Regions from separate parts of the Homo sapiens genome. Here region 1 is linked to region 2. Evidence: fine-mapped expression QTL. A gene starts in region 2. The other region holds a variant in brackets. All regions are shown on one strand. Distances are from middle to middle.

Region 1 (9,062 bases), 20 kb after region 2:
CTCTCCCACCTACACATCTGGCACCTATTGTTTCCCTGCCTGTCTTTGCGTGGCACATGAGTGCGTGTTCTTCAGCACTTTGTTCGAATCTCACCCCCTCCCAGAAGCCTTGCTGCCCCCATCTAATTTCAGCCTTCTTCTTGGTCCACCTGGCTTCCCCCTTCTGGCCAGGACCTCAGAGGGAAGGCAGTGCCCCTTCACTCACTCATGCATCTCGCATCTCTCAGACTCCCAAACCAGTCAGTGTCAAGGCATAGAAATGACCTGGACATGGCCCCCATCCTGGTCTAGAAGGGGAGATGGGCAAGTGGGCTCTGACCTGGGTGGGGAGGGGATGTTGGGTGTGGCCAGTTCCTCCCTAAAGGTATCAGGGAAGGCTTCCTGGAGGAGGGGACATTGGAGCTAGTTCTTGAGGGCTGAGCAGGAGTTCCTGTGTGGGGAAGGGAAAGGCATTCTGGAAAGGGAGGGTGATACACAGGTATAGTGGGTGTGAGGAACACAGAGCTGGGGGCATGTGGACCACCATGAGGACAAAAATTTCTTAGAGGAGAAAAGAGCATGAGGCTGGAGGGGTGCAGAAGGGAAGGCCAGTCAGGGCTCAAAGCTGAGCCTGAAAAGATCAGACTTTGTCCTGGAGGCAGCGGGGAGCCACTGGGGGCTGTGAGCAGCATCACTCTGGGTGTGTGGGAAGACGTTTCTGGTACCAGGCTGGGGAGACTAGAGCCTGGGCAGCTTGAGAGGAGGCTGGGGGAGGGTCCAGGGCAGAGGAGGAGGCCTGAGCTGGGGCAGGCAGAGGGGAGCAGGGCACAAGCGTCAGGCGGCAGGGGTGGGCACTGATGGTGGGGGAGGTGGGCGAGGAGGAGGTCAGGAGGAGGATGGCTCCTAGGGGTCTGCCCGTGACTGCGGGATGGTGGGGCCATCGTGAGATGGGGGCACCGGGAGGAGGAACAGGTTTAGGGGAAGCTTCTGAGCCCAGTGTCCTGGGGAGGGACACAGATCAGGGTCTCGGGAGGCAGATGTCTCCATCAGCCCATGGATCTATGTTTAAGCCAGAGGTGGAGACTGGGGAGGTTATCCAGGACAGTGTGTGGGTGAAAGGGGAAGAGGCCAAAAGCTGATGCAGCTTTGGGGTCAGCAGTGTTTACGGGGAAGCTAAAGAAGGGAGTTGGGGCCGGGGGCAGTGGCTCACGCCTGTAATCCCAGCACTTTGGGAGGCTGAGGCAGGTGGATCACGAGGTCAGGAGTTCAAGATCAGCCTGGCCAAGATGGTGAAACCCCGTCTCTATTAAAAATACAAAAATTAGCTGGGCGTGGTGGCGGGCGCCTGTAATCCCAGCTACTCGGGAGGCTGAGGCAGAGAATTGCTTGAACCTGGGAGGCGGAGGTTGCAGTGAGCTGAAATGGCGCCATTGCACTCCAGCCTGGGTGACAGAGTAAGACTCCATCTCAAAAAAAAAAAAAAAAAAAAAAAAAAGAAGGGAGTTGAGAGATGACCCATATGTGTAGAAGCCCCTGGGCTGGCCCATTCTCATTCTCGGATTTCAGTGAGTAGGTCAGTGGTTAGACCTCATGGCACACATCCCCTTGGTAGAATTTCCATCTCCACCAACAGGCGCCCCACCCCATGGAGGGGACTGAAGGGATGCCAGAGAGAAGAAAAGCCGGGCCGGGGCGAGCTTAGGAGGAGGACAGAGAAGTCAGGGCGGGAGGAGGGTGCAGGCGGTACCCACCTGGTTGAGAGCCATCTGGTAGATGTCTTCGGGCGAGTGGCCCTTTTCCTGGGGACGCAAGGCGTAGCCCAGCTTCTCGGGCACCTTCTCCACCACATAGTTGCGCAGCTTCACTTCGTGCACCTCCGTCCACGTGTTCTTGTCGTACTGGGTGAACTTGGTCAGGTTGAGCCCCAGGCCCTGGCAGAGCTTGTGGAGGATCCTGATCAGGGGAGTGGGTGAGTGAGGGCCGGGCTCCAGTGGGGGTGGCCTGGTCCCTAGTGGGACTTGGAGAAGAGGGGTGGGAGGGGAGAGTAGCTGGGGACCAGCATGAGGCTGGGGGTGGGGCTAGATTTGGGGTAATCAATGCTGGGGGATGGGAATGAAATGGGGACAAGGCTGGAGGCCTCAGGGCAGTACCAGGATTAGGATTGGGTTAAGAGTGGGATAGAGCCCAGATTAGAATTGGGAAGGGGGACAGAGTTTGGGTTGGACGGGGGTTTGAGATGAAGAAGGGGCCTGGGGCTGGGGTGCCTGAGGGTGTGGGGATGGTGGAGCTGCAGGCCTGGAGGGGCCAGCACAGGAGCTGGCTTTTGCACCAGGCAGGGCCAGCTGGAGGTCTGGTTGGACCAGGTGGCCCGAGTGTTGCCAGAGGCCCAGGGCTGGCGCTGGAGGCAAGACTGAGGTGAGGATTAGGCGAAGGATGGGGTTGGAGGCTGGGTTTGGGAGTCAGAGTGGAAGTTCGGGCCCACTCTGGTGTGGGCATGGAGCTGGGGGGCTAGTTGAGTCTAGGCACACAGGTGGGTGGGTTGCTAGGTCACCTGTGAGAGCTGGGCATGCGCATGGCTCCCAGCTCCCCAATCCAGCCCGTGTTCTGGTCCCGGTAGGTGAAGATGCGGCCCCCGATCCTGTTATCTGCCTCCAGGATGGTGACCTGAGGGAGTCCGTGGGGCGAGGAGGGCCCTTCAGCTCCACCCACTGACCATCCCCTGCCCTCTACCACCCCGTGCCAGCCCCCTGCCTTCTTCCATCCCCACAGTGGCCCAGACCCAGACTAGGAGAGGGTCCCCTTCTGTATGGAGGTGGGGGAACAGAACTGAGTGAGCAGTTCCAGACTGCAGGAGGAAGGCTGCCAGCTAGACTGCAAAGGGACTTCCCAGCTCGGGGAGTTCGGAGATGACCCATATGCGTAGAAGCCCCTGGGCTGGCCCATTCTCATTCTCGGATTGCAGTGAGTAGGTCAGTGGTTAGACCTCAGGGCACACATCCCCTTGGTAGAGTTTCCCTCTCCACCAACAGGCGCCCCACCCCAGGACAGAGGAGCTTTGAGCCAGTGAGACTTCCCTCTGGGATGAAAAACGTGGGACAGGAAAGTCTGGGGCCTCTCAGTGGAGACATGTGACAGCAGGGGGCTTGGGCCTCACCCCCAGACTACAGGGAAAGATAGCCTCTCCCCCCACATCCCCACCTCCACCCCCTCAAGGAGGAACGCGGCCGTGTCCCTGTGCCCAGGGACTCCAGCCTGCAGCAGGAGGGACTCCAGGTAGACTGCAAGCAGTGCTTCCCACCTTGTGTCCAGCATCGCTGAGCACCTTGGCGGCCACCAGCCCGGCCACACCAGCGCCAACCACAATCACCCTCTGGGGCTTCAGGGTCCGATTGAGCCCCCAGGTCACCACCTTGAGCAGCTGCTCATAGTCAGGATCCTGCATGCATTTCTCGAAGGGGTCTTGGCTGCGTTCAGCCTTCCAGTCCTGGGAGGCCACCAGGCTGAGGAGGATGGGGACGAGGACGAGGAGGTGCAGGGCTGGGAGGAGGAGGACAGGGTCAACGGGGTTGTGGCAGGTCGGGGGAGAGGGGTTCTACTCACTTGTTCCAGAGCCCCTCCCCTGCTTACTCACCCAATGGGGCCATGACTCTCGGTGGGAGATGGTGTCTGGGGTGGAGGAGAAGGGAGGGCTGTTGTGACTGAGGCCTGTGACCACTGTAGCCTGACTCTGTCTCCCATGGGCTGCCCAGCTGCTAGAGCCGGCCCTCCCCCAGTCACTGTCCTGCTCTCTGGACCTGTGTCCCCTAACCCCATTCCTTCAGAGTCCCCTGGACCGTCCCTGCCTCCCTCCTCACCGGTCTCCACCTCTGCCACAGCTCTCTCGGGTTCCTGTCTCTTTCTCTTCTTTTCCCTCTTTCTTTCCTTTCTTTCTTTTTTTTTTAACAGTCTTTCTCTGCCATCCAGGCTGGAGTGCAGTGGTAAGATCTTGGCTCACTGCAACCTCCGCCTCCCAGGTTCAAGAATCCTCCCACTTCAGCCTCCCAAGTAACTGGGATTACAGACACCCATAACCAAACCTGGCTAATTTTTGTATTTTTAGTAGAGACGGGGTTTCGCCATGTTGGCCAGGCTGGTCTCGAACTCCTGACCTTAGGTGATCCACCCACCTCGGCCTCCCAAAGTGCTGGGATTCCAGGCATGAGCCCCCGCGCCCGGCCTCTTTTCCCTCTTCCTCATCTCCCCAGCTCCTGACTGCTTCTCAGTCCCTATTTCTGTGGGTCCTGTCTCTCTGTCCCCCCACCACTGGCCGTGTCACTACCTCCAGCTCTTGGTGACAGCAGGACAGCGCGGTCCTCTCCACTGCCCTCCACTGTCTCTGCTGTGGCCCTTTCTCTCCCCTTAAACTGGCAGAGCCCCGCCCACCCCTCCTTTTGGGAAACTGGCCGAGGGAAATGAAACTGGTTTCCTGGAGCTGCTCTGGTCCAATGCTCAGAGTCTAGTTGAGGTTGGAGAAAGGGGGTTGGAGGAAGTTAATCAGTCTATTCACTTCCTTTTGCCCCAGATAGTTCTGGGGTGGTTTGGAGGCCAGAAATAGATGCTCAGGTAACCGTGCCAACAACGGGGAATCCCCTTCGGTTTGCCCCCGTCCCTGATCACCAGGCCACTTGTTTCTATCCTCCCCTGCACTCTCTCTGCCTCCTTGATTCCCACGGGGACAGAGGGGCTACAGGTCCCTGGGCCAGGCCAACTTTCCCCTCCAAGTCCCTCTCCGTCAGGTGTCGCCATGTCCTGCAGGGCCCCCCATGGTTCCACTTCCCTCTCCACTTGCCACCCAGAGCCTCAGTCTCCCCCTCCGTTACATGGGTGTAGCAGTGGGGCTGGCAGCCGTGGTCCCGGGGTCAGGACGTGGGCTCTGAGCCCGCCCTCCCCTCTGTGGCTCTCGTCTACAGCTGTCAAATGACGTCTACAGACGTCACAGTGTTTTAGGATCAAGTGAGTGAATCCAGGTTAAGTTCTGTGGCCGGAACCTGGGGTAGTACTGGAAGCTGCTCCTTTGGAAATGCCAGCTGCTGTGGCCGCAGGGGCACTCAGGGGTTCTATGAGTGACCACCCGGCAGAGGGAAGCGCCCAGGCTTCACCCATCCCTGCTTTAAGAACCACCTCAGTGCTCAGGGCAGGGAGTGGGGCGGCACCTTGGAGTGGGTGGGGGTGGAGAAACAATAGCAGGGACTTTCCTTGGGGTGGGGGAGAGGGAGCCAGGGG[C/G]TCCGTGAGGAGGAAAACCAGAGGGAGGCAGATTCTCTGCAGCAAGGGTTGGGTGGGGGTTGGAGGGCATTAACAAGAAGGAAGATGGGAAACTCCCGCAGTAAATCAAAGAGGGATGCGGTTATGGCCGGGAGGGGCTGGGGGGTGAATGTGAGTAACAAGGCATGTGACGCAGGGGCGGGAGGCCGTGGCAAAGGGAAATGATCAAAGAGCTGGAGAGTTCAGGGACCGAAAGAGCTTGGGTCAGCAAAAATAGTGACGAGGGCCAGGGGTGGCTCACGCCTATAATCCCAGCACTTTGGGAGGTCGAGGCAGGCGGATCACCTGATGTCAGGAGTTCAAGACCAGCCTGGCCAACATGGCAAAACCTCGTCTCTACTAAAAATATAAAAATTAGCCGGGCATGGTGGCATACGCCTGTAGTCCCAACTACTCAGGAGGCTGGGACAGGAGAATTGCTTGAACCCAAGAGGTGGAGGTTGCAGTGAGCTGAGATCGTGCCACTGCACTCTAGCCTGGGTGACAGAGCCAGACTCCATCTCAAAAAATAAAAAATAAAAATAAAAAATAGTAATGAGGGCCGGGTGCGGAGGCTCACTGCTGTAATCCTAGCACTTTGGGAGGCCGAGGTGGGAGGATTGCTTGAGCCCAGGGGCTCGAGACCAGCCTGGCCAAGATGGCGAAACCCTTTCTCTAAAAAAGAAAAAAATAGTGACAAAAATGTTCCCATGGCGATCACCTGCCTTGGAGGCCGCCTGGTGCTCAGGGCTTTGCACCCATCGTAAGCCTCACAATGCCTGCATTTGAGGCCAGGCACAGTGGCTTACGCCTGTAATCCCAGCACTTTGGGAGGCTGAGGTGGGCGGATCACTTGAGGTCAGGAGTTCAAGACCAACCTGGCCAAAATGATGAAACCCTGTCTCTACCAAAAATATAAAAAATTAGCCAGGCGTGGTGGTGCACACCTGTAATCCCAACTACTCGGGACACTGAGGCAGGAGAATCGCTTGAACCCGGGAGGCAGAGGTTGCAGTGAGCCGAGATTGCACCGCTGCACTCCAGCCTGGGGGACAGAGTGAGACTCCGTCTCAAAAACAAACAAACAAACAAACAAAAAACCAACAACAATGCCTGCATTTGATAGTTGAGGAAACTGAGGCTTGGAGATGGCGAGAGGGTGGGACAGGAGGACCCTGGGGCACAGAGAGGGGAAAAGGCTTGGCCTAGGTCTCAGAGTTTCATTCACAGCGACATGTCAAGTATGAACGCGGCGGGATTGGGGCCTTATTCGCCTGTGCCTCGACCTGGGTCCCACAGTGGGGAATGGCAGTGCTGGCATTCCTCACCAGGTCGGGTGGGCCCCAGGTCCCCGGCCCCTGCCCAATAGCTTGTTCAGTCCTACAGCCGCATAACAGTGGAAACAACCATGGAAAGGTGTGGAGGCCCACAGCCAACTGGCTCCCAGGGCATGTCCCAGGAGTTTTTGGGTCCCCAGAGTGGGTGGGGCCCTGCACCAATCCCCTTGTCCTTATCACAGAGGGTTGTTGCACAAAACTCCTCTGGCCCCAGGCATATGTGCAGCTCACCTTGGGGGACTTCTGGGTGGTTGTTGTTGTTGTTTTGAGAGATGGGGTCTTGCTGTGTCACTCAGGCTAGAGCACAGTGGCACAATCTCGGCTCACTGCAGCCTCAACCTCCCGGGCTCAAGCAATCCTCCCACCTCAGCCTCCCTAGTAGCTGGGACTACAGGAGTGCACTACCACACCTGTTTTTTGTTTTTTTTGTTTTTTTTAATTGAGACGGAGTCTCACTCTGTCACCCAGGCTGGAGTGTAGTGGCGCTATCTTGGCTCACTGCAAGCTCCACCTCCTGGGTTCACGCCATTCTCCTGCCTCAGCCTCCAGAGTAGCTGGGACTACAGGCACCTGCCACCACGTCCGGCTAATTTTTGTATTTTTAGTAGAGATGAGATTTCACCGTGTTAGCCAGGATGGTCTCAATCTCCTGACTTTGTGATCTGCCCGCCTCGGCCTCCCAAAGTCCTGGGATTACAGGCGTGAGCCACCTCGCCCGGCCACACCTGGCTAATTTCTGTGCTGTTTGTAGAGATGGGATTTTGTTATGCTGCCCAGGCTGGTCTTGAACTCCTGGGCTTAAGCGATCCTCCAGCCTCAGTCTCTCGAGTAGCTGGGACCACAGGTGCACACCACCATGCACAGCTAAATTTTTGTACTTTTTCATAGCGACGGGGCCTTGCTATGTTGCCCAGCCTGGTCTCAAACTCCTGGGCTCAGGTGATCTACCTGCCTTGGCCTCCCAGAGTGCTGGGATTACAAGCATGAGCCACTATGCCCGGCCCCTTTGAGCTTTTTTGTGCATTTCACATCATCTTCATTCAGCATGTATTACTTTTGTAATTAAAGAAAAAAAAATCCCAATTAATGTTAGTTTGAAGCAATACATCAGACAGGCCAGGTGCCCCCAGTGAAGAGCAGAGGGCGCAAGTCAGCTGGTTCAGGATTGATGCCTTTCCAGAATGCTCTGTCGCCCAGGCTGGAGTACAGTGGTGTGATCTCAGTTCACTGTGGCCTCTGCCTCCTGGGTTCAAGTGATTCTCCTGCCTCAGCCTCCCCAGTAGCTGGGATTACAGGTGCGCGCACCACCACGCTCAGCTAATTTTTATATTTTTAGTAGAGACGGGGTTTCTCCATGTTGGACAGGCTGGTCTTGAAGTCCTGACCTCAGGTGATCCACCCACCTGGGCCTCCCAAAGTGCTGGGATTACAAGTGTGAGCCACCATGCCCAGCCTCCAGAATCATTTCTGATAATACTAAGGAGATTGGTGTTCAGGTTAAATTAGGTTTAGGGATGAGGGTGGAATTAGGGAAAAGCAGTTTGGATAGGTGAGTGGGAGACAGGAGGGAGGGGAGGGGCAGGTGGAGGGAGCGGAGGGGAGGAAAGGCCCAGTCAAGTATCTGTTGACTTCAGCTGGTTTGGGGGTATTCTGGTTTTTTGATGGAGTTTCTGGAAAATAAGGTTAATCCTCCCAGATAATGGTCTTTGGTGGGGCAAATCCTACCTTATTTGGTTGACTTCTAGAACCACAATGATGGTTTCGATGAGGTTTAGGTCATGTCTATACAGCAGCCAGACACCTGGCCCTGGCCCCACTGGGGGCCTCGTGGCCCATCAGGGCAGCTGATGCTGATGAGGGCTGCACAGATGTGCTGGGGACCGGGCCCCTGCCTTACGTATATACGCATTCTCTTCTCTGAGTCTGTCCAAAGACCCTAAGTGGTCAGTATTAAAAGTTTCATTGGCCAGACGCGGTGGCTCACTCCTGTCATCACAGCACTTTGGGAGGCCGAGGTGGGCGGGCAGATCACGAGATCAGGAGTTCGAGACCAGCCTGGCCAACATGGTGAAACCCTGTCTCTACTAAAAATACAAAAAAATTAGCCGGGCGTGGTGGCGGGCATCTGTAATCCCAGCTACTCAGGATCCTGAGGCGGGAGAATCGCTCGAGCCTGGGAGGCAGAGGTTGCGGTGAGCCGAGACCGCGCCATTCCACTCCAGCCTGGGCTACAGAGCGAGACTCTGTCTCAAAAACAAAACAAAACAAAACAAACACAAAACTTTCACCAAGGCTTGGGTGGGCAGGGCCTGCCCAGGGGATGACCTGGGACCTGGGTGGGAGTCAGGGGGTCCAGGCCCAGATTGGGGAAGGGACTCAGGGATCGGAGGACAGAATTAGTGAGTCCCCCAATCTTTGGCCTGACCCCAGGACAGGGTCCCCCTTCCCATGGAACCCTCCTTCCTG
Region 2 (10,180 bases):
CATGCAATGACTATGACCTCTGTTTCACAAATGGAGACCTGGAGGCCCAGAGAAGTTAAGTCACTTGCCCGAGGTCCCATGGCTACTAAGGGACACCACCAGGATTTGAACTCAGGATGCCTGCCCTTCACCCTACACGGGTTTTCTCCAGCAATGGTGAGGAGGCCTGCCATTGGTAATAACAACAAACAAGGACCTCCTAGTGACTGATCAAACTCCTACTAACTCCGCAAAGCCCTAGCGTTACAGTCCAGCCTCCGGGAAGTGCCCGACCCCCAAATTCCCCCCAAAACAGCTGGCTGCTCCCTCCCTGGCTTCCTCAGATGTTGGCTGCATCCCAGACAACTCTTTAACTCCTGCTTGGCCTCCCAGGCGTTGTGGAAACGACTCTGGTTCTACCCATGACCTGCCCCAGAGCCTCCCAACCCCCACCGGGACTCCAGTTCCTTGGCTAGACCGGGAGCCCCTTGAGAAAAAAGCCCGAGCCTGCTCTGTGTCCTTGTGCCCACCACTCCCAGCACAGAGCTGGCCCCAGGACCAGTAAGGCTCAGAGCAGGGAAGGGACTGGCTTTAGATCACACAGCAAGCCCCAGGCAAGCCTGTCTGGCTCTGGGGTCCTGAGACTGCACTTCTGTAGAAGTACTCTGGGCTAAGCAGGCCCCCACCCCGACAAAGCCTCCTGCGGGCACCTCAAGCGCTGGGCCGCACCCGCCCCTGCCCCCACCCTCTCACCTCCATTATCACTAATGCCCAGCTGCTCCCCGGAGGTCTCTGTCTCTGTGGGCTCATCCTCGTCCTCCTCGTTGTCCTCTCTGGCCAGGGTAGGCCGGGGTGGGCTGGGTGTGGGACTGGGTGGCTGTGGTGCTGGTGGGGGCGCAGGAGGCCGAGCAGCAGTGGCAGCCCTGTGGGCCAGTGCGATGTCGTGGAGGCAACGGCGCGCTGCCTCCGCCAGGGCTCCTCGACCATGGGCAGCATAGGCACAGGGGCCCGGGCGGGGTGGTGGCGGCGGGGCCGCGGTCAGCAGCACCAGCTCCGTGCCAGTCCGGGCCCGGAAGCGCTCAGCGGCCCCCACCACGGCCTCCCACAGCTCCTCGGGGCGCCCCGACGCCATCCGCGCCCTGCGGGCCAGAGCAGGACAGAGGGGGCTGAGGCTTGGCGGCCTACATCATCGCCACCCACTCAGAGTGCCCGCCCGTCCCCTGGATGGCACTCACCACCCTCCACCCACCTTGTCCCAGCGGTGCTGTGTGTCCTCCCCAAACCTGCTACTCCCCAGGATTCTCACCATCCAGTCCTCGCAGGCCCAGACCCTGGCGACGTCCTCTGCCCCAACCCATTCCTCCTGCCCCAAGTCACTGTACTCCTTCCCCTTTGGCCCTGCCCTGGCCTCTGTGGGAGCCGCCAGCCACATGTGAACAGGGAGTACTGGAAAGGCAGGGAGTCCTAGCAGAGAGTCCTAGCAGAGAGGCCTCTAACAATAAAACCTGCACTGGGTTCTGAAGACTGAGTACAATAAAGCCGAACGAGCCGGGCGTGGTGGCTCAGGCCTGCAACCCCAGCACTTTGGGAGGCCGAGGCAGGCGGATCACCGAGCCCAAGAGTTCGAAGCCAGCCTGGGCAAAAAAAAAAAAAAAAAGGAATTTCATCTGCTTTTTTTACTCTTTTAACATGGTGTCTAGAAAATTTAGAATTCCACGTGGGGCTTGTGTTGAATTTGATGGATGATGCCACCCTGCTCCGTCGCCCAGCCATCCCGTCAAGAGTGTCCTGCACAAGGCCCAGGGGGTTCCTTCAGCACCCGGAGCTGATGCTACTCCTCGCCATAGTCCTCAGGGCAGGCCCTGGAGGCTCTAGGTGTTCTGGCCATCCCCAGCTCCTGGGCCATCCTGCCTCCACGGCCTTCCAGAGCCTCTGAGGCCCGAGGCCTTCAGAAAACGTGGTCCCTGACCTTGATGACTTGTGCTCCATTCCCCACCAACCTTTCACTCATCCTAGGGTGGAAGAAACTTTCCCTCGCCCATAGATCCAGCCAGTCTGCTCCATAGGGGGTCCCACACTGTCTGAGTGGCCACCTTCCCAGCACACTTCCTTCCAGAGGGAACTGGCTGGTTCTATGACTGAGGCCTCAGAGAGTCGGGGCTGAAATGGTGCTGGCGCTGCTCTCTGTGCTGGGAAATCCACACGGCTTTTCCTACAAGACTGTTCTGGCAGGTCCTCTGTTGTCCCTGATCCCCCAGGGTGCATCAGATGACTTCAGGAGCCCATCCGATGCCCTGGGCTTCCTCCATGAGCATTCATGTCACCTGAGCTTGTGACAGCTGTAACCTGGCTGCCTCCTGCATCAGACTGTGAATTCCCCCAAGGTCAGGGATTTGTGTTTGCAGGACAGGTCGGCCCTAAGCAGACAATGCAGGGTGCGTCTCCTTACTGGGTGAGAAGAGCGAGGGCAGGGGGGCTGGGTCCTTGCCCTGACTCTGTCTCAAACCTGCTGTGTGACCTTAGATGGCTCACTGGCCCTCTCTGTGCCTCATTTTCTTCCCCATTAACCAGCGTGGTTGAGCCAGAGCTGCTGGGCTGCGGAAGACGCTCTTCCGGGAGGCAGTAAGCACACCGCCACTGCACGGATTCAGGCACAGCTGTGGTCCAGCCCACCAGGGTGAAGGGAGCAGGGAGTCTGGAGTCTGAATGAAATTTGCAGGCCTTTTATGACTCACGATCATTGATGTTGGTGTTTGCTGAGCACCTATTCAGTGCTGGGATTCCACACCTGGCATCTCACCTATCTGACTCACTCAGGGAGTTCAAAGCCCCAAGGGAAGGAAGAGGTTTATCCACCACCTCCCAGAAGCCACGCAAGGACCCAAGATGGGATCAACCTTCTCATCCCACCCTTTCACCTACACTATGAGACAGGAGCTTTAGTTACAGTTCACCCCATTTTACAGTTGCAAACTCAGGCCCAGGGGCAGTCAGCATCTTGAAGGGCCACAACTGGAAGAGGCAGGGCTGGGACCTGGACTCAGAAAGTCTAGATCCGGGGCCTGTTCTAAATCCTGACCGCCATCCTGCCTGCCTTTAGGAGGGCAGATATTCTAATCCAGATGGAAAAGTGAGGCTCAGAGAGCTTAGGACACTGGCAAAAAAGCACACAGCTACACAGGGCACAAGTGGGGCTGAAACTGTGAGGCTCAGAGAGCTTAGGACACTGGCAAAAAAGCACACAGCTACACAGGGCACAAGTGGGGCTGAAACTGCTGACTGCCCAGCCCCAAAACCCCACTGAACTGGGGGGTACCCGGTGTCTCAAACACACCCATGTCCTTCCCAGCTGATGAGGGAGGAAACTGAGGCTCTAAGCAAGAAATGGCTGGTCCAAAGTCAACTGCCTCGCCGTGCTAGGCCTGGGGCTCTCACTTCCACGGGCCTCCAGCCCCTAATGACATGCGGAGAAGAGGGGGAGAGGAGGTCCCGGAAGAGAACGTCAGGATGAACTCTCCGTGTACTCAATCTTGGAGTAGCCACGGGATTAAAGAGTGAAATAGGGTGAGTGAGTTGTGAGGGCTCCCCCAACTCAGGAGACATGAGCAAAAAGGACAGGGCGACTTCCACAGACCTCTTTGCCAAGGTCCAGGGGCACCCTGTAATGCTACCCAACAGGAGAGTAGCCAAGACCTGGGGGTCCTCCTTACCCTTCAGCTTCTAGAGGAGGTCCTGTTTCCTCCAAGGAGCTGAGAGATGGAGGAAGAACCCGCCCCGATAGACGAGTTTCGTGTAAGATCAGGGAGAGATTAGAGGAAAGTGAGACGTGTTCCCCACAGGAGGGGGAGCACGATGTGGCTGTCCTCTTTGGATGCAGGGAGGAGGGAAAAGAGCTAAGGAGGAGAGGGGTGGAACCACCCCTCCTGTCGAAATTTTAGTACCCCACACCCCAAGATGTGAGGAACCTGAGCATGAACGCGGTAGCCATGGGGTGAGCGCCTGGGGCCACGCTCAGCTGCCCCGAGACCTCCCAACCTCGCCCGGGGTCCAGGGAGGACCCACTGGTCTAGGAAGAAAACAGGAAATCCCGCCCAGACGGAGGCCAGGACCGGAAGTCCCGCCTTTGGACGGGTGAGGGGCGCCCCGAGGCCCCCCAAACCATCCCCCGACCCCGTGGACGTGGTCCACGGCCCAGGTAGAGATCCCAGGCGCTCTGGAACCGCAAGGTGAGACTGTCTACGATTTGCCTCAGGTCTGACAGGACGATTCCCACGGGCGACCCCCTTCCAGCGCTCAGCAAAGGATCGCTGGCAGACCTCTGCCCTCTGATCTGTGCAGGCCATACCCCTCCCGTGAGCCGCTCGCCCTCCCAGCGCCCCGCTGCCTCAGGACGGCCAAATCCTCCCCACACCGCGGTTAACAACGCCGCCTCCACTCACGTGCCCGTAGCCAGCATGGCCGGCCCGGCGCCGTCACCGCCCTCAAAAGACATGGCGGCGCCTTGCGTCACGTCCGCGCAGTTGCCCCGCCTCCTCTCCGCACACTCCGCCTCCCTTATCGGGGCCGCCCGAGATCAAGATGGCGGCCACAGGGGCTTCATCCGAACCAGTTGACAAGGGTGACGACAGCTTGCCCCTAAGAAAAATGGCCCCGCCTAGAGCATTTCCATTTGCCCCCAACAATAATGGCCGTCCTCATATGCTCAATCATGACCACAGTAAACGAAGGCAAGCGACCTGACGTCCCTGACCCACAATAAACTTCTTCGACAAAAGTAGAGGAAATCGGTGCTCGTTAACAACATGGCAGCCAACCGGGCTTAATCAGCCCATAGTGTATATTGGCTCTCCCTCCCTCCAACCTGCTCCCATTCGGCACGAAGGCTGGCAAAGATCCAACACGGCAGCATTTCTTGCTTCGGTTTGCCAGGCTTCAAAATGGCGGCTCAGCCCGCTTTCTCGCGACGGTGACTCAGAAATTCGTCCGGGGCCGCTTCGTTTCTGGGGGCACTGACGGCTTCATCCCGTTATCCTGAGTCCCTCAGTGCCTCTTGTGGTGTACAGCTCCTCTCACCTCCTCTTCTCTTATCCGTTCGGCTCTTCCAGCTGTCGCGCCCCGCAGAGAGATGGGACAGCCCCGTATTAACATGGCCTTAGCTGACCGGCTTAGGCCATGCCCTCGAGCAAAATGGTACCTCCTTGGCTTCAATTCCAGTATACAATATGGAGAAGGAAGTGGGCGTTTCAAGGCGTGCTTGCCCCAGGTGGTGCAGCTCTCAGACCCTCCCACTTGTTTACTTCGTGGCGAGAGGGCGAACACTGCGCCTGCGCACTCTCCGTAGCCGGATCCACCTTCAGCGTCTGCGCCACGTGACTCCGATCCACCCTCGAGGTTCCAGTGGAATAACCCCCTTCTGAAAAATGGTTTCACCCGCTCCTTCTCTAGAACGGGTCGGGCCGCTACCACTGTCCGGCCCGGAGGGGAACTGTTTTCTCCGGAAGTGACAACACGCTGACTAGGAAAAGGAGGAGGCGGGGCAGTGGGGCCTTCGGCGGCGACTATGGAAGGAGCCGGCTACAGGGTAAGCACTGAGGACGCATTCCCTCGCTTCAGTGTATGCGAAACGCCCCGTCTAGTGATCAGCTCTTCTCTCAGGCCTTGGCTCTCGAGAATCCGGCACGGCCTTGGCAAACACCGATCTCTTATAAACGCGCCGTCACCCTCCCGTCCACCGCCCCAGGGAAGAACCTCCCATGGCCCCGCCCCCCCGGCTCAGGCGACTCCTTGAGCCCTGCCCCCTGTGGAACGCACGTCAGCATCCGAACGCGGGCTGGACCATTCTCCCCGCCTTGGTCCCGGGGCAATGGCCCTCCCGGCCCCGCCCCCTGAGGGTGGCTCCTCCCTGGGCCCGTCCCTATTGGCTCCCCAGGCTGGTCCCCTCGCTTGGGCCCCAGCCCTCGCTGGTTCCCCCCAACTCAGGTGGTGTTTGAGAAGGGCGGAGTGTACCTGCACACCAGCGCTAAGAAGTATCAGGACCGAGACTCTCTCATCGCTGGTGTCATCCGTGTCGTGGAAAAGGTGCGCTGGGAGGGAGCAGGGCTCGGACCCGCTCCGAGCGGGATGCAGGCGGTCTGGGATGCAGGCGGCAGCTGTAGGAGTTTGGTCTGGCGGTCAGCAGTGGGACCTGAAGAAGGCTGGGTGTGGGAACTGGAATGAGGGGCGGGACTTTGAAAGGCTGAGGGTAGAAACTGGGAAAGTTTGGAAATTTGCAACGGAAAGTTTTGGGAATGTGGTTTGGGGAGCGCCTCTAACCCCGCCTCCCTCCTTACCCTAGGACAATGACGTCCTCCTGCACTGGGCTCCTGTAGAGGAGGCTGGAGATTCCACCCAAATCCTCTTCTCCAAGAAGGTAGGCTCCACCCGCTTTGCCCTTCTCCACTCGCTTTTTTTCTAGGTCCGTGCTGTTGTAAGTCATTTGAGGGACCTGCGTACAATCCCAGACCTACTCGTGGGGCATGTGTGACCCTGTTTAGGCTTGGGTACTCTGCCTCTCCTTTTGCTCCTCTCTGTGAAATGGGCAGAGGATGCCCATTCAAGGAAAAAGAGCAGGGAGCATAAGACGCACGGTCGTGGGGACGGCTGACCCCTCTCTCCCTTTGCTTCTTGGGAGATCCCTGCCAGGGTGCAAGATGTGGATTCGAGTTGCTTGAAGGGAAATGGCATTTCCTCTGGTGCCAGAGGACAGGGCCTGACAGCCTACTCACCCACTTCGTCACTGCTCCCGGCTTTCCCTTCGTTATGTCTCCTGGGACTTCCCATGGCTGGACCCCGTCCTGGGCAATTCTGAGACCCAGAGATAAGTCAGATCCAGACCCACCTAAGCCCTGACCCTTACTCACTTTTTGAGAAACTGATAGATGAGGTCGAAAACGCTAGGAAGTGTTGGAACTTTTTGCACCCAGACAGTCTGATTCCAGATCCCCAACGCTTCCTGGGAGAGCAGACATTTGAGCTGGGACTCCCAGGATATGAAAGGACAAGAAGGTATTTCAGGGACAGCAGAACAACCTTCAAGGCACACGGAGAAGTTGGATGCCTCTGTAGGGGGGTTCTTTAGTGGGGAATGAGACCTCCATTGGAGCTGATGAGTTCCACCCAGGGGCCGGAAGTCAGTCGGCACCCACAGAGCTAGTGACGAGACACTGGAAGGCTGAGCTGACCACCTGCGCTGCCCCAGGGCAGGAGGATGAAGATGAAGATGAAGATGACTCTCCACCTTGCTCCACAGCCAAACACAGCCAAGGCACCAGGAAGTTGCGTTACATCACTTCCGCTTTCCAGGTTGGCCTGCATCTGGTTGGTAGAATTTGTCCTGTGTCCTGGATTCCAGCTGCAAAGAAACCTGGGAAATGTAGTGTGTTTTTTTTGTTGTTGTTATTGTTTTTTTTTTTTTTTTTTGACAGTCTCACTGTCTCAAAAGAGTGCAAAGTGGTATCTTATTGTGGTTTTGGTTTGTATTTACCTGGTGAGTACAACAGTGTCCATTGAGCACTCCGCAGCCTGACTGCAGAGCCACCTGCTGTGTAGCATGGACCTCCCCATGCAGTGGGAGACATGGGGTCAAGTCCTGGCTCGCTCTCTGGCTGCATTGGGTGACCCTGAGCAAGTGCTGTACTTTCTTTTTTCTTTTTTTTTTTTTTTTTTTAATGAGACAGAATTTGCTCTTGTTGCCCAGGCTGGAGTGCAATGGCGCCATCTCAGCTCACTGCAACCTCCGCCTCCCAGGTTCAAGCGATTTTCCTTTCTCACCCTCCCGAGTAGCTGGGATTACAGGCATGCGCCACCATGCCTGGCTAATTTTTTTGTATTTTTTTAGTAGAAACGAGGTTTCTCCATATTGGTCAGGCTGGTCTCGAACTCCCGACCTCAGGTGATCCGCCCGCCTCAGCCTCCCAAAGTGCTGGGATTACAGGCGTGAGCCACCGCACCCGGCCTGCTGTACCTTCTTTGTGCCTCAGTTTCCCTCTTTATTCAATGGGGCTATCTTCCAGGGTAGCCTCGAGGCTAAGATCTGAATCCATGGCCCCTTACTGTCTGCTCCTTTCCTCTCCTAAGGACTCCAGTGGGGGTGACTCATGTGCTTCTGAGGAGGAACCAACCTTTGACCCCGGCTATGAACCTGACTGGGCTGTCATCAGCACTGTGCGGCCACAGCTCTGCCACTCAGAGCCCACGAGAGGTAGGCTGAGGTGGCGGCCCTTGAGAAGCACGTGTGGGCCAGGTAGGACACATCTTGCCCTCAGTGGTCACGGTCCCAAGGGCTTTGCTGCCCACAATCAAGAAGGCCACCAGTCACCACCTTCCAGTCCCAGGAGCATGGAAGTGAATGGGAAGACAGGACTGTCCCAGCCCAGGTCAACATGGCCAGTGTCTCTGAGACTGCAGCCTTGCTCATCCTACTGGGCTCCCGGATTGGCTGTGGGTGCTCCCACACCAGGCCTGCCCCTGAGGTTCGAGGCTGGTGGGGTGACAGATGCAGCCAGTTAGGGTGATTTGCACCATCCTGGGGTCACACAGGGTGCAGGGGACATCCAGAGAAGGCACGTGACCCCTCTGGGGAATGGAGATTCCTTCCAGGAAGAGGTGATGCTGGAGCTTGGCACTGAGGGACTCTTGGGAGTTTTCTCTTCTGGCAGAGAGAGCAGCCCGTGCAAGCCAGAGGCAGGCGGCCCCCGTGTGTTTAGGGAGCCGCTGGCCTTTCATTGTAGCTCAAGTGTGGGATTTTGAGTGAAGAAAGGTTGGAGGTAAGATAGGCAGGGGCGAAGGACAGACCCGAGGGGCCTCGAGTGCCAGGTTGAGGAATAGGGCCCTTACCCTGCAGGTCGAGGGGTGCCTAGGAAGGTTCTGGAAAGGTACATGTCCACTGGGCCCCCTTCCCATCTTACTCATTTGTGCTTCCAAGGAATGTGAGGCCAGGGGCAGAGGGGTGGCTTGTGGCGGGGCCCTCAGGAGATGCCTGTGCCGAAGGAACATCCTGGGTTGTGGTTGATAAGGCTGACTCTGGCTTCCCACGCGCTTCCCCCAACACAGTGCCGTCTCCCTAGGTGCAGAGCCCAGCTGCCCCCAGGGCTCCTGGGCCTTCTCAGTGAGTCTGGGGGAGCTAAAGTCCATCCGCCGCTCCAAGCCAGGCCTCAGCTGGGCCTACCTGGTTCTGGTGACCCAGGCTGGAGGTTCCCTGCCCGCACTGCACTTCCACCGCGGGGGCACCCGCGCCCTGCTCCGCGTCCTCAGCCGCTACCTGCTGTTGGCCAGGTGAGCTCTCTCCCAGTGCTGGGCCTTAAACCGGGCCCAGTCCCACCATGGCTGCAGCGTGACCCCTCGGGGCTGTGAAAGAAACACAACTCACACTGATTTAAAGGCAGGCAAAGAGTTGACCAGCACATATAACTAAAAAGTCAAAAAGGAGTATTGATTTCAGGCAGGACCCAGGTCCCAAAATGTTAGAAACAGTTATCCTTTTTCCCTCTGAGTTCGTTATTCTCTGGGGCCCCAGTATCCGTGGCTTAACAACCCGGCTGGATAGAAGGCACCTCTTTCCCCACGTTCCAACAAGATCCCAGAGCTGCTTCTCATTGGCTCGTCCCTGAGTCAGTCACACTGGACCGGAAGGTGAAAGGCCCTCATTGGCCAGCCCCGAGTCATGTGCCCACCCCTGGGATCCAGCTGTGGGCCTCCTTTAACAGCATTCCCTGAAATGAGGGGTTGCCCAGGGGTGGTTGGGACGCTGCAGCTGGAACCGATGTCGGCCGAGCACAGACAGCCTGGGACACTGGGCCCCTACCTGTGCATCACCTGTGCGTCACCTCCCGCCTCCCAGCTCCCCGCAGGACTCCCGCCTCTACCTTGTCTTCCCCCACGACTCCTCTGCTCTCTCCAACTCCTTCCACCACCTGCAGCTCTTTGACCAGGACAGCTCCAATGTGGTGTCAGTGAGTGTCCCCAGCAGGAGGCCTGGCGGGTGTGGGCAGGGAGGGACGAGAAGGGGCGGGCCGTGACCTCCCTTTGGCCTCGTCCCCAGCGCTTCCTCCAGGATCCCTACTCCACCACCTTCAGCAGCTTCTCCCGAGTGACCAACTTCTTCCGGGGTGCCCTGCAGCCACAGCCTGAGGGAGCCGCCTCCGACCTTCCCCCGCCACCCGAC

The links.
Region 1: its variant is fine-mapped to the expression of TBC1D17 in monocytes after Pam3CSK4 (Quach 2016, PIP 0.95). The same link has a PIP of 0.9 or more in monocytes, monocytes after LPS and monocytes after R848.

Annotation. Positions count from the first base shown.
Region 1 is chr19:49,892,538-49,901,599 of GRCh38, forward strand. It overlaps IL4I1 (interleukin 4 induced 1), which reads right to left and starts at 4,350. Exons shown (of 8, transcript NM_152899.2): 1 at 4,298-4,350; 2 at 3,611-3,645; 3 at 3,278-3,516; 4 at 2,531-2,643; 5 at 1,731-1,932. The coding sequence starts at 3,623. RefSeq lists enhancers at 2,836-2,885, 5,280-5,459. The variant C/G (reference allele first, on the strand shown) is at 5,242.
Region 2 is chr19:49,872,185-49,882,364 of GRCh38, forward strand. It overlaps TBC1D17 (TBC1 domain family member 17), which reads left to right and starts at 5,518. Exons shown (of 17, transcript NM_024682.3): 1 at 5,518-5,560; 2 at 5,959-6,057; 3 at 6,314-6,388; 4 at 8,095-8,218; 5 at 9,084-9,291; 6 at 9,857-9,968; 7 at 10,058-10,180. The coding sequence starts at 5,540. It overlaps AKT1S1 (AKT1 substrate 1), which reads right to left and starts at 5,171. Exons shown (of 5, transcript NM_001098633.4): 1 at 5,053-5,171; 2 at 733-1,118. The coding sequence starts at 1,111. LOC124904743 (a long non-coding RNA gene) reads right to left here. Exons shown (of 4, transcript XR_007067293.1): 4 at 9,906-9,990. RefSeq lists enhancers at 3,792-4,751, 4,335-4,974, 5,155-5,494, 5,712-6,671 and a silencer at 5,715-6,004.